2 linked regions of the Homo sapiens genome follow. The protein of the gene in region 2 purifies or fractionates together with the protein of the main gene of each other region. This does not show direct contact. Each region holds a gene or a part of one and is shown on either strand. Other genes may lie near its edges.

What was found.
Region 1: the proteins of TPRX2 (region 2) and TLE1 purify together in Homo sapiens (affinity purification with mass spectrometry, with the first as the bait; one large-scale study listed by BioGRID). This does not show direct contact.

Annotation. Positions count from the first base shown.
Region 1 is NC_000009.12:81,583,183-81,585,865, forward strand, and holds the end of TLE1 (transducin-like enhancer protein 1), read right to left. Parts: intron 2,474-2,683; coding exon 2,323-2,473; intron 1,343-2,322; coding exon 1,266-1,342; intron 1,124-1,265; coding exon 1,016-1,123; 3' UTR 501-1,015; downstream 1-500. UniProt on the Homo sapiens protein: Transcriptional corepressor that binds to a number of transcription factors. Inhibits NF-kappa-B-regulated gene expression. Inhibits the transcriptional activation mediated by FOXA2, and by CTNNB1 and TCF family members in Wnt signaling.
Region 2 is NC_000019.10:47,857,869-47,862,034, forward strand, and holds TPRX2 (tetrapeptide repeat homeobox protein 2), read left to right. Parts: upstream 1-1,366; 5' UTR 1,367-1,378; coding exon 1,379-1,403; intron 1,404-2,244; coding exon 2,245-2,414; intron 2,415-2,933; coding exon 2,934-3,644; coding exon of another isoform or gene 3,645-3,696; 3' UTR 3,697-3,853; downstream 3,854-4,166. UniProt on the Homo sapiens protein: Transcription factor expressed after fertilization required for zygotic genome activation (ZGA), a critical event in early embryonic development during which the developmental control passes from maternally provided mRNAs to the expression of the zygotic genome after fertilization.

The sequences.
Region 1 (2,683 bases), on a different chromosome or scaffold from region 2:
CCTGGGTAACAAACAATGTGAACTCAAATCTTTAAACAAAAAAAAAAAAAAAAAAAAAGGAGAGAGAGAGAGAGAACGAAAGAAAGAGAGAAAGGGAAAGAGAAAGGGAAAAGGAAGAGGAGATTGGGCCTTCCTAGAAAAAGGAATATTTTGCCTTCCAATGAATCACCAGAAAAAAGTAGAGCTTTAATCTTTGACCTTGAATCACAATAGTATCATAACAAAAGAACAAATCTTGATGAAGTAATTTTACTTTCCTAAAGAAAACTGTCATTAGTAAACCTTCAATTACTCACAATTCCTAGTCTTGAGCTCCCAGTAACTCAAGCTTGTGAAGGATTAGGTTCTAATGCAATGGGAGCCTACCACCAAATATATTTATAAAATAAGCAGTGCAATTCAAAACTTCCTCTACAAATGTATAATCTTTGCTTATAAAACCCACATTGATGATCCCAAAGCTTTAATAAAAAACAATAAAGAAAGAAAAGGAAAACCACTTATTGGTACTAAAGCCTTTACTGTAATAAACCAAATATATTTACAATTTATACAAATGTTTAACCTTCAACAAAAATACAAAAAAACATTTCACAAGATGCAAAACCAGGAAACAAGTTCATTGGAGACACCACTGCTCTACAAAGGACGGAAAGTGAGGTGAACTGCAAGGAACAGAAAGGTAATCTCACACTTGGGCAAGGCGTGATCCCCAGATCACCCAGAAAGAAAGAATGGGCTGTCATGTGAGTCGGCAGATTCCGTTCCTCAATCCTACAACCCATGGCCCCTCTGTCCGCTTGGCCTTGGTGCTCCATTTGGTCTATGTAGACAGGTGACTTTCTGCTGATGGACTTGTCGCCTCCTCTTTGTAGACTCAAAGTAGTTTTCTGTCAAGGTTTGGAAACAGGTGTTTGTAATTTTTTTTCTCTTTTAAAGTTACAACTTTTCTATTTCTATAAATTCGAAACATTTTGGCCCAATTCAACTATAAACGTTAAACCACATAATGTTTTCAGTAGATGACTTCATAGACTGTAGCCTTCTTGTCCCCCGAGCCAGTGACTATGTACTTATCATCCACAGAGATGTCACAGCTAAGCACTGACGAGGACTCTTTGGACTGGAAGAGAAAACAATGGACATGTGTTTAATGTGGAACAACGGTACTCAGAGGCCCTGCTCCCTCGGAGGCACCTTCACTCCTGGCTTCAGAGGCGACACTGTGGTCAAACTGTGGATCTAGGTGAGGAGTACTTACTCACCTGGAATATGCTGGCTCCATAGGGGGTCCGCCAAGCATTGAGGAGGTTATCTTTTCCAGTACTCACAAACCATTTACCTAGAATTAGCAAAGGAATATCTAGTTTTCACAAGGTTAAAATTCCTACTATACAATTAGCAACTTGGACTTAATCAAACTAAGAACATTTTTAATATATGAACTATCATGCCCTAAGGACTGGTCCATGATATGAACAGAGGTTTTAATCTGGGCTCCTCAGTGATTTATCAGTGATCTTGGGTATAATCTAAGAGGTATCAGCCTCCTTAGTCACTGGATACAGGACTAGTAGCATCATATCCAACACACGGTAACCCTCAAATATAGAAATCAATGAAGAATGTGTTCTATTTTAGTCAGTCTCCTCATGATAAAATGGGATTAAAGATTCCCATCTTTAATGGGAATTAAAGGATTAAACATCCAACTTAAGTAAAATGCCAGTCACATCATATAGCATGAAGAAAAATGCTCAATAAGTGATAGGCACTCATCCACCCATCCATCCATCCATCCATCCATCCATCCATCCATCTATGCATACTGTGAACAGATATCTGCCCATCTGCAGCACACAAGAAGGGTCACCACATGAACTTCTTCCCTCTTCATCCTCACTGTAGAGTAGAGTGTAACTAAGTGTCTGCGTATACCTAAATATCGACTTCTCTAACCCTGGATTCCTCATCATGGCCAGCTCATAATGACTTCCACTGCCCCTGCTCCATTCTTCAATAAATTCCCGCCCACCCCTCTTCAGAGTAGAAACTCATTGTCGTCTCCCAACCCCTCCAAAACAAACTTGTGTCCAAACCGTGTATTAGGCAATCACATTGCCTGCTGACTTTTCTCAAATTAGCAAAACAGACTGAAACAGACATTGCTGTGCTCTGAAGGGCATATTAAAACAATAGAATTATTGCATCCAGCTGCTCGGAGAACATTTTTTCCAGATTATGATCTCTACCATATTTTTTTAAGAAGCATTTTCCATTTGGGCCATCAACGGCCTCCAGTTTCCTTTCGGCTGAACTCACCACAGTAAGCAAATTTCAGGGACAGCACGCAGCTCTCATGCAGGTGCAGCTGGTACTTGTCAGGCTTGTTCACGTGCAGCACCTCCACATTGCTGCTCTCCATGCCCACTGCCAGCCACTCCCCGGTGGGGCAGTACCCCAGGGAGAAGATCTACAAGGAGCAAGACAGGCTCACTCATTATTCCGCCTGATACACTTAGGAAGGGAAGACGCAATGTGAAAAGTGGGGAAATAGCAAGAATGGGGGGAAGTAATCAGCCAAGTCCAGACTGTGGGGAGGTCCACAGGGCAAGTGATCTAACGCAGATGAACCAAGTGTCAAAACCTTTAGGAAACTGGAAACATTTGAACCCCTCTGTCT
Region 2 (4,166 bases):
AGCGTGAGCCACTGCGCCCGGCAGAACTTTCTTATATTTAAATGTCTATCTTCACAAAATAGTACCAGTGAGCTTGTTCATCTGCTTATGTCTTTATTGGCCAAATAAATAGCCACGGTGCAAAATCTCTGTGGTCACTACTGTGTTCCCAGCATGTCCTGTAGATGAAGCCGGACAATGTGTGCAATGAGGAATCATTGCTGGGGATGCTGCTTTCTACAATAGAACTCTAAGTAGCAGGTGAAAACAATGAGCGAGGCCCGTGGTAACAATGTCTACGTTTTATTGAATTTTGAAATTGGTTGCATGAGTCATTTCTTTTTCTTTTTTTTTGGGAGGGGGCCGGAGTCTCCCTCTGTCACCCAGGCTGCACTGCAACCTCTGCCTCTCAGGTTCAAGTGATTCTCTTGTCTCAACCTCCCAAGTAGCTGGGATTACAGGTGCCTGCCACCAGGCCCGGCTATTCTTTTTGTAGTTTTAGTAGAGACGGCGTTCTGCCATGTTAGCCAGGCTGGTCTCAAACTCCTGACCTCAGGCGATCTGCCCGCCTCGGCCTCCCAAAGTGCTAGGATTACAGGCGTGAGTCACCGCGCCCAGCCTTGCATGAGTCATTTTTAGCTCCCTGGATCATGAGCCTTGTCAATCTCCTTGACCCCTGAACCCATGTGGGTCCTGCTATGAGGAGATGAGGGCAGCCAGGGGTCTGACACAGCAGATGCATCTCTGAGGGACCTGACTTGTGTGAACCAAGGTAATGGGTCCCCTGCATACATCAGTAGCAGTCCATGGAAATGTCCATCAGACCTGTGTCCCCTCCTGGTTGGGGGAGCAGGAAACTTCAAGAATGACTAGTAGGGGCCAGAGTGGCCTCAAAGGACCAAAGAGGAGGCTGTGGGGTCATCCAGGAGAGAGGGATGGTGACTGGACAAGGCGGGCAGCCCGGGAGCCGGGAGGAGTGGGTAGACTCGCTGGCATTGATCATGTGGGGCCCCAGCCCTGGGAAGGAATAAGGATGACTCCTGGGGGCTGGCTGGCGGTGCCTCTCCTGAGATGGGGACCCCAACCACAGGTCATGATGTTGACTCCCCCGATCCCATGTGGAATACCACCTCGCCTGGGCTAGGGCCCATGAGGGTGAAACCAAGGCTGTGTTGTCCACTGAGGTTCCCCAGCTCCTAGCACAGCTCAGCAGGCAGTACCTGATCAGTGATGAGGGATTAATCCACCATTCAACTCCTCCAGGGGGCGGGACTGCAGGGCAGGGTGGGAAACGGAGGGTCCTGGCAGGGTGGGCCAGGGTGGGCACAGCAGAGAAGTGATTTAAGAGCCAAGCCCTTGTCAGTACACACTTGTGTTTGGGAACAGATCAGGACTCAGGATGCAAGACCCTGGTCATCTCCAAGGTGAGCAGGGACAGAGGTGTGAGGGGCCTGGGCTGATCCTGTGGCTGAGGCTGCAGAGTGCAAATCTGGGCAGCCAGAGAAGGGCTGGGCCTGTGCGGGCGGCTTCCTGTCCTGCAGACGGGGGAGAACTTAGTGGTGTCTGGGAAATGAAAAATCATGCAGCTGGGCGCAGAGTCTCACGCCTGTGATCCCAGCTCTTTGGGAAGCCAAGGTGGGAGGATCACTTGAGCCCGGGACTCTGAAACCAGCCGAGCCAACATAGTGGAGACCCGTCTTTAGCAAAAATACAAAAATTACCCAGGGGTCGTGGTGCACACCTGTGGTCCCAGCTACTCGGGAGACTAAGGCGGGGGGTTCCTTGAGCCCAGGAAGTGGAGGCTGACTTGAGCCGTGATCACATCACTGCACTCCAGCCTGGGTGACAGAGCGAGATCCCCTCCAAGAAAAAGAAAGAAGGAAAGAAATTAAACCATGCAGTTGAGTGGAGCAGAGGACTGGGCAGGTGGCGGCTCCCCTGCAAGTGTCAGGGTCCCTATAACCCTTGGATGGGAGGGGACGGGGCAGCTGGGGAGGGCTGAGCAGGCCTGAGGCAGCCCCGTCTGCTCCGAGGTGAGGCGCCTACGCTGCCTGCCTTCCCAGGAGCTGTTATCGCGCCCATTTCCTAGATGTGGACCCTGAGGCCCAGAGAGGTGCAAGGTCTGGTCTGGATACCAGGCTGCTATCCGCGGTGCCGCCCCAGCCCACACTGCCTGGGCTCCTGGCCTGGCGCAGGGGACGGGGTCCCTAGGGGGGCTGGGGGCTGCCTGGGGGTTTCTGTGACCTGTTTCCCTCCCACCCCCAGGCCCTCCCCTGGCCCTGGACCCTCCAAGGAGACAGCGGCAGGAGCGCACGGTCTACACTGAAAGCCAGCAGAAAGTGCTAGAATTTTACTTTCAGAAGGACCAGTACCCGAACTACGACCAGCGACTGAATCTGGCGGAGATGCTCAGCCTCAGGGAGCAACAGCTGCAGGTCTGACCCCCACCCCCACCCCGCCCGCCCCAGTCACCCCAAGGAGCCTCCCCACCGCTGTCACTCACCGGGGCCTGGCCCGCCCGACCACCTCCCGCCCTGCCACGCAAGGGGTCCCGCCAGTGTAGACCCGGGCTGCATCCTGAGTCCTGTTCCAACTCTATGCTAGCCCAAACTCGCCCACATGATCGGCCCAGGCTGTCCCCCACGGGGTCTCCCGGTGCCCGGACCTCAGGCACCCGTGAGAACCCGCGGTCCCTCCCCTGGAACCCTCCCTGGCCCCCCGGGCACCTGGGCGGCAGACCCGGCTCCTCCCCTCCCACCCCACCCTCCTCCCCCTACTTTCCCCTCCCTCTTCCCTCCCTTCTCCAGGCCTGGGAGCCGGGGGCCCTCATATGGTGGGTGCGGGGTGGGGGTGAACACCGGGAGAGTTTTGAGGCCGGCGCCGCCCCCGAGCGGCTCACCCGGGCCGCGCGAGTCCCTCCTTCACACCTTCTCCCTGTCCCCTCTGCCCCCCAGGTGTGGTTCAAGAATCGCCGCGCCAAACTAGCTCGGGAGCGGCGGCTCCAGCAGCAGCCCCAGCGCGTCCCTGGGCAGAGAGGCCGAGGAGCCCGCGCTGCGCCCCTAGTCCCTGTAGCCGCTGCCTCCTTCCCTGGGGGTCCTGAGTTCCCGCAGGGCAGGGGTTCCTGGATCTCCCCTCAGCCGGGCCCCTGGGGAGTCCTCCCAGCAGCAGAACCGAAGATCTACAGCCTCCCCCGGACCTGGGGTGGCCCTGAGTGTGGAACACAGGAGGGCCTCAAGGCTGTCCCGGCTCCAGGCCCTGGCCCAATCCCAGCCCCTATCCCAGGCCCAGCCCAGATCCCAGGCCCAGTCCCAGGCCCAGCCCCGAATTTAGGCCCAATGTCAGGCCCACTGTCAGTCTCGATCCCCGGTCCAATACCAGCCCCCATCTCTTGCCCAGGCCCAATCCCAGACCCAGTCCTAGGCCGAACCCTGATGCCAGGCCCAGGATCACTCCCAACCCCAGCCCCAGGCGCCTTGTGGCCTCAGAGCCCCTATGCCTCCAACTTGTCGCCAGACACCCAGTTATACCCTGACTTCACCAAGCTGCTCCCGCTCCTAGACCGGTTCGAGGAATCCTCACTCTCCACCACGACGTCTCAGTACAAAGAGGAGGATGGCTTCGTGGACAAAAATCACTCAGTCCCCAGGTCATTACTGGATTTATAGGGGGCCTGTGCCTGCAAAGTTCTTCAGATCCCAGAGGGCCTGGAGTGGCTGATCTACACTGCTGGTGACTTTCTGCAGTGAATGCATCACCCTTTACCCACCCTGCTGCAGGTGGACATTTGCTGTCTTCACTGTGCAGCCATCACAGGTGGCTCTGCTGTGAATGTGCCTGCCTGTCATTTGAATTGAGCCTGAGCGTTTCTCTGCTGAGACTGGAGTCGCTGCTCACTGGGATGTTTGGCATTAGTGGATGCCGCTTGAGAGCTTTGTTAAGGGCTTTTCCCAGCCCTCCTTCTGGTCAATGTCCTCCCCAACACTGAGGCTTGTGAGACTTTTTAATGTTTGTCGATCCAGTGACTTGTGGTTTTGTTGTGGTTGTAATATCCATTTCCCTGATGATTGAGAGATTGAGAAATTCTCATATGGGTATTAGGCATTTTCAAATAGTGACTATTTTTCGTTTTTTTTTTTGAATATTTTCTCATTTTTATTAAATAGTGACTATTCATGGTCTTTTTGGCC